2 linked regions of the Homo sapiens genome follow. The protein of the gene in region 1 interacts with the protein of each later gene in a pairwise test. Each region holds a gene or a part of one and is shown on either strand. Other genes may lie near its edges.

Region 1 (3,751 bases):
TCAATATAGATGGGCTTAAAATTTTAAGTATTCTCACTTTAGTGACAAACACCTTGGGGATCTTAAAGGACTGTTTTATTTATTGATACCAGTCACTGTCAATATTTTTGGTTCAAAGACGCTTTCATATTCGATTTTCTGATAGAAGACAACGCAATGAAAACTATCAAGTTGCTTATGAAAAATTCTTAGGATGACACTGCACCTAATGTTTGTAGTCAGTTGTTTGTCATTCTTTCCCTTGTCCTATGCTGTGTCCAGGACTGCTAGATAAGTAGGTACCCAGCATCCTAGCGTCCAGATATCAAAACCATGAAAATGAAGCACTACAAGCCAGACAGATAACCTCCAGAGGGAGCAAACGAATAAACCCCCAAATCCTGTGGATCTAGAAGTAGAAAATAATCGCTGAACCACTGATTTGAGACCAATGAGAACATTAAGGACACCTCAAAATAGATCAGGGCACTGTTCCTAGCCCAACTCTGTGGCAGAACATAAACCTGCAAGAAATAGGATTAACATACTATCTTTGCAGTAAGTTAAATCCTGAACTTCTACAAAATACAGTTTACTCCAATTTAGTTACACTCTTCCTGCTTCTGGTGTCTTACCTCCACGTTGGACTAAGGTTTTCAATTCGGTGGTGGAATACTTACCTATTAAAATTACCCACTTTGCTTTAGTGTGAGTTTCTCAGCATGTTTTACACAGGAGTGACCTGAATGACTCGGAAGTGGCACTTGAGTGTGCCAGGCCCTGGAATTTAATGGTATGGTTCTGTGGTTGTTGTCTGTTTGCGGTTTTATTGCTGAATTAGTAGTAACCACAGTAATCACACCCTTTCTCATTTCTCAGGCTTGGGGATTTCGTCCACCTCTGGCGGGTTGGTTCCCCTGACGTTTCTTAAAGTTACTGTGAATTTGTTCTGGTCAGTACCATAGAGTGTATTATCCTAAGGAGGGCCACTGTAGGGCCGCTAGGACTAGAGGCAACTTGAACTTCACAAGTTAGCAGAGCAAGGACTCCCTGGAACACCGAGTTAGGGCCACGGGGTCTGTTTGCTCAGATTGCCCGCCAGCCCTGGGAAAGGAGTCTGGGGGCGAGCAGGCTGGGTTCCCGGGTCTCAGTCGCCGCAGTGGTGGCTACAGACTGCGCATGTGACCCAGGGGCCGGCGACGCAGGTGCCGGAGAGCGAGGAGGAGGGCGGCGTGGAGGAGGGTACTTCCGGGACCGGCGGGCGCGCGCTGGCAGCTCGCCGACGGCGGGGGCGGGGGCGGGGGGCGGCAGGGGAGCGAGCGCGCTGGCGGCGGGCGGTGGCGTTGCGCGCGGGGTGGCGAAAGGATGTGCGCGGGATCGCGGGGGAGGGGGAGGGAGCGCGCGGGCTAGCTGGAGGCGGGAGGGGGCGGAGCCCTGTGGCGTCTGAACCCGCCCCGGGGGTGCCAAGGTGCGTCTCCAGTCTGACGCGACCGCCTGGGGCGGAGTCAGCGGGACGTGCCACCTGCAGTGCTGGCTAGGGCTTTTTATTTACTAGGGAGCAGTTTCCCCGCGCGACAGTTCGGGAGCGCGCAGGCAGTCGCGCGCACACACGCACGCAGGCACACACACACACACACACACACACACACACACACTTTCGCACACACAAACACGCTAGGACGCTCGTCTTCGCTACTGCATCCCCGAACCAGCAGAGCGAAGCTACTGCGGGTTCTGTTAACCTCAGCATCGTGGGGCGAAGCAGAGCCATTGTGCATCAAGGAGAGGCCGGTGCCTGCGCTGCCGTCTCTGGCACCTAACCCAGCAGACCGCTCACCCCATCGGGTAAGCCAGTCTCTCTCCTTGTAACCTGTTCTGCAGACCTGAGGAAGAGGGTGGGAGGCTGCTGGTGCGCCAAGTGGGGGCAGACCCGGAGTTGACATTTCAGGGGCTTGCAGCCCATGCAGCCTCTGCCCGTGTCGTCTAACGGGAGCAGCCACTACTCAGGTTACTTATGCTGCCAGCCCTGGAGTCGCTCCCCCTTTCTTCCCTCCCCCTGAGCCCAATATGTACTGTGCTCCTTGGTTGCCAAGGAGACTTGCTTAAACATCAGCCGTGGGACATCTATTGAAAGAACTGGTTTCTTAAATGATGCCGTTATTTATTTTGATATTTAAAATAAAATATACACTGAGGACCTTTCGTAATTTGGCATTTGTTAATCTGTATTCAGGTGGCGGTTTCATTCAACTTCAAGAAAAGCCGTAATTGCACTATATGGTATGCTTTAAAAAGGATTCGTCAGATGAATTTTTCAACGGATTGTGTCTTGAATCATAATTTACTCCCATTTTGGTGATCTTATAAAGAAAGATGACTGCAGTTTAGATCCCTTCTTCCCCTCTATTTCCAGTTTTATTTTGCAGTTCACTTAGTCGTGATTATTTTAAATTAAAAGCAGATGATTTAATTGTGTTTCCCCACACAAGAATGAGCTTCTATTGTAAATTGACCAGAACAGGAATACGTTTGTGAATTCGTAACGTAAGAAGGTAGCATTCATGACATACATCTTTGCTAGCATTTTTATATCCCCTGCATCAGTATTGAAGCGCAGTTTTTTGCACCTCTGCTCATTTCTGAGAAGATTCTGTTTTTTAAAAAATCTCTTATTGATTATTTTTAGATCTATCTCTATACACAGATAGAGATAGATATAAAATGTGTGCCATGGCTTACTAGAGCTTATATGAAAGTGCAGTGGTTTTTGCTTTTTGTTTTTTTTCTGATGGGACTGGGTCCTCTACTGGAACACTGATAGGCCAATGGAACAGGTCAGCCTAATACCTGGGCTGTCAGTTTTGTTTTATTTTGAGGTCTCGGGTGTCTATTGGGTGAACTTGTAACACAGTACTTGAAGGCATCAGCAATCCAGTAATTACACTTTGCACGAATTTCATGCCTCCATCACAAACAAATGGCCCAGTAAAGATCCACTGGCATTCAAGAATTAATTTTGTTTTCCTTGGATATTTGTTCATCTTTTCTACTTCTTGTTAAATGACCCAAGGAAATAAGTCAAATTCTTCTAATTTAGATTTTAAACTCTGTCATAGAGAGTGTAATAAATAATGTGAGGAGCAAGTAAGCCAAATAATGACAGAGGTAGATAGAGGGGATTTATGCAATTCACAGAGCTTTGGGAGATGAATGATGACAAACATTTTACATTACAGTGTAGAAAGCACTTTTCATATACTTCTTTTTTAATCCTCACAACAACCCTTTGAGGCCAATAAATTACCTTCCATTTAAAGCTGAGGAACCCAAGACTCAAACCTTGCTGAAGGTCACAGCTAGTGAATGGGGAAGCCCTTTCTGGATCCAGTCTCCTTGCCTTTAAAAAAAAGTTGTGTGTGCGTTTCAGATGTGTGCAGGGATCTGACAAGTGAGATAAAGGAGTGGAGCAGGCCTAGACAAGACACGTGGGAGAGAGGGTAGGGAGTGGAGTGTGAACTGTGGCCTCTGGAACTTGCAAACCACTGTAAAGGAGGCAGCTCCCACTCCACTGTAGCCGATTGTTACTGTCCAGGCTCTAAAACATGACAGTTTTTTAAGGAAAACAGAAGCTTCTGGATTTTTTTTATGAGGTATCCTTAATTTTAAAAACTGTAAGGACCACATTAAAAATTGTATCTGGGTCATATCTAGCCTGTGGCCTGCTAGTTAGCAACCCATAATTACTGATGTCTCACTCAATTATAAGTTAGTA
Region 2 (3,651 bases), on another chromosome or scaffold:
TCATGGTGAGAGCATTGGTTTTGCTCAGGGCGTGAAGGCTCCCCGTGGCAATGAACGGACGGCCACGCATGGCTCAGGGATATGGCCTGACAGCCCCTGGCCTCAGCCTCTGCCAGCCAGATGCCCTCTGCTGAGGTCAAGTGGAGCTGGCCAGCCGTGGACCTCCTCATGCCCCCAGGCCTCCGCCAGCCCCACTAGACCCTTACCAGCCCGTCCCCAGCTCCAGACAGCACCCCCTGGCCATCCTGGCTGGATTCTATTTCTCAGGGTTCCCTGAAACTCACCCTGGGTCAGCCCCGCCCCAGCCAGCTCCACCCATGCAGGGTACGGCAATGGGGGCCCAAGAGGCTCAGCTTCTGCTTACAAATCCCTGGGGCCCAGGCTGCTACCTCGATAGTGATGACCTCCACCTGGACGTTGGTTGGGAGGGAGAGGTCGGGCTGGAAGCGCTTGGCCAGGGCCACAAGGAGGTGCAGGGTAGACAACAGGTCCTTGTTGAAGATGCCTGGGAAGAGAGTGGAGACAGGTCAGAGCCCAGGAGGCCGCCAAAACGTGCAGCCAAATGGAGGCTTCCTCACTGTCAGAACAACCATCTGCAGACCAAGGAGGTCTGTGTCCAGCCTTCTGGAGAGCAGAGATCTGGAGATACGTGTTCAGAACCTAAAAATCATCACACTTCACCCCATCATCTCACTTCTTAGAATATAGCCCAGGGGTATGATCTACCTTGTGGAAGGGGCTCTAGACACAAAGATGTTTACTGCAGCACTGTTTACAATCGGAAACAACCAAGTGACCTCTGGGAAGGCACTGGCTGAACGATCATTAGATTTCAGCTGCATGTGACTTAATTCAGGGTTGATTTCATCAACATCAATTACTGATTGTGAGACCTTACAGGCTGCGAATGCAGGCGCATGGGACCCAACAAAACCTGGGTTTGAAAACGGACTCTGTTAAATCCTCACCGCCCAACCTTGGAGAAGCTGCATAATTTCTTTCAGCCTCAGTTTTCTCATCTGGGTGGGGTGGGGGGATATGGAGAATTGAAGGGAAGGAAATCTATACCAAACTGTGAACCAGGTGGGGTGGGGAAGTCTAGGTGTTTGGCACGCTCTCTTGGTTTTTGTGTTTCTTTGATAAGGAGTCTCACTCTTGTAGCCCAGACTGGAGTGAAGTGGTGCAATCTGGGCTCACTGCAACCTCTGCCTCCCAGGTTCAAGCGATTCTCCTGCCTCAGCCTCCTGAGTAGCTGGGATTACAGGCACCGGCCACCACGCCCAGCTAATTTTTGTATTTTTAGTAGAGATGGGGTTTCACCATGTTGACCAGGCTGGTCTCAAACTCCTGACCTCAGGTGATCCACCCGCCTCGGCCTCCCAAAGTGCTGGGATTACAGGTGTGAGACACCACACCCGACCAGGCACACTCATTTTTTGTATAAGCAGGCCCTGCAGATATTCCAATACTTTAATGAAATGAGAGTGTGGATGGGCGGACCACGGTACTTGGAACTCAACAGTGGCTGTCATTCAGATAGCAAACAGAGACTGTTTGCTATCCTTGGGCTGCACTTTGCAGCAGTAACACCCTCTAGGGCACAGATGTGTGCTGGGCTGTTGGCTGCTCAGCCAGATGCCTGACTGTGGCTGCCTGAGGCTTCTACCTCCTTCCTGACTCCCAGGTTGTACCCCTGCTGGGAGAAGGATGAGTGCGCCTTCCTGGTGGGTGAGAAGCCTGAAGCAGAAGGACCCCAGCGGCCCCACACTCCCCAGGGGTAGCCAGGTTGTGGCCCACGTACTCTCCACGCTCCACTTGGCCTGCCACTCCTCCAGCTGCAGACTCCGGTTCACGGCCTCCAGCACCACTGTGAGCTTGTGCTTCTGGCTTGTGGCTGTCAGGGCGATGTCCTCTGCTTCCAGCTTGAGCGCCGCCAGCCTCTCTGGAGGCAGGAGAGGGTGGTGAGGACCCCTGGCCGGGGACAGACCAGAGAGCACCTCAGGGACCCTCCAGGAGGCTGAGCCTGCCTGGTGCTTCAGGGAACATGGGTCTGGAGAGCCCATTCTTGGTGTTGGACCGTGGGCCACACTCACAGCCTCAATCGGGTATGCCCTCCAGCTTCCAGGAGACCCTCATCTACACAGAACAGGATTGGTGGGCCATGCAGGCCACATGATGTGAGCAAGCCTCAGCCCCCTGAGCTGGTTGAGAGAGCCCACCTCACCTTGATCAGCCTGTGCCTGCAGCCCCTGCCCTTCTGCACAGCTGTGTCCACTTCATCTCTGCAGGGCAGTGTGGCCTAGTGGTTAAAGCCTACACTCCTAGGCTTCTATCCTGACCCCCCTGCTTCCCTAACCATAAGACCTTGGAGAAATTATGAGGCCTCTCAGAGGCTCCCTTTCCTCATCTGTGAAATGGGGACAGTAACAGCACAGGGCTATTCTGAGGATGAACTGCACCTGCTACATGGGACATGCCCGGAAGTGCTAGCCGCATGAGTGGGATTGTGCAGCCCATCTCCAAAGAGCTCGGCGAACACTGCAGAGGCTGGCCTCAGGCGAAGTGCTGAGGACATGGAATTGGGCCTATCTGTGGCCTCCGAGACCACAGTTGTGTGCAGAAGAGATGCGTAGACCAGACATGACCATACAAGGACAAAGGAGAGGGTGACTCTGGGGCTTGTGGGGAACACTTGCCCGGGACCAGGAGGAGGCCCTGAGAATGCACATCCCCTGCAAAGCCCCTTGGAGCTTTCCAGACTGAGGAGGAACACGGAGACAGGAGCCCAGCCCTGCCCCCAGCCACCCAGGACTGCCCGTTTTCTCTCTAGCAGCCTAGGGCAGCCCGAGGGCAGGGATCATGGGTTCTTTTGTTACCTCCCAGCACCTCAAAACAGCAGGCACTCAATAAGTGTTAGAGAGGCAGTGTGGTGTGGTAGAAAGAGCACCAACCCTGGCGTCAGAGCCCCACCCTGAGCCCCAGCTCGGCCCCCTCACTCATGGGCTGTGGACAGCGCCTCCATCTCCCCAGCCCAGGCCCATCTAGAAAGTGAGACAGGTGTCCCTAAACCCGGGACCATTGTGGGGACTGAAGGAGAGAGCCTACCTGTGGGCCCTGGAGGGGCCAGGTCAGGGGGATGGGGCCGAGGCCCAGGCAGCCCCAGAAACAGCCACTTACGGAATAGGTGGTGTAGGATGAGCCCGTCGAACATGTCCTCCTCCAGGCTGCGGACCACAATGTGCTCGGGGAGAAGAGTGGCATTGATCCACTCCATCAACACCTGCAGGCTCCAAGGGGACAACTTTTGGGGGGATGGAGACTTCTCACCTGGCCCTCCACCTGGCTCAGAATGCCTGCCTCTCGCCTGCCAACTCCTACCCATCTTTCAAGGCCTGGTCAAATGTCACCTCCACTGGGAAGCCCTCCTTGATCTCCCAGGCTGTTAGGGGCCTGCCCCAGGTTCCTGCAGACTCCCTGCTTCTCTCCATCACAAACCTGAGCAGTGTGGGGCTGTCATTATCATGTGTGAGGTTTTAGTACCAGGAAGTGGGGTACTACCATAGCAAATACCCAAAAATGGGGAAATGGCTTGGGGAATGGAAAGAATTGGACAATGAGCACTTGATAGAAAAAGCCTAGATTGCCCTGAAG

Evidence for each region. Proteins that work in one complex are often made in the same cells at the same time.
Region 2: the proteins of KLHL32 (region 1) and PARVG interact in a two-hybrid assay, tested with the Homo sapiens proteins (one large-scale study listed by BioGRID).

The regions. Positions count from the first base shown.
Region 1 is NC_000006.12:96,923,203-96,926,953, forward strand, and holds the start of KLHL32 (kelch-like protein 32), read left to right. Parts: upstream 1-1,525; 5' UTR 1,526-1,824; intron 1,825-2,212; exon of another isoform or gene 2,213-2,259; intron 2,260-3,751.
Region 2 is NC_000022.11:44,187,405-44,191,055, reverse strand, and holds part of PARVG (gamma-parvin), read right to left. Parts: intron 3,281-3,651; coding exon 3,178-3,280; intron 1,943-3,177; coding exon 1,802-1,942; intron 506-1,801; coding exon 390-505; intron 1-389. UniProt on the Homo sapiens protein: Plays a role with ILK in promoting the cell adhesion and spreading of leukocytes.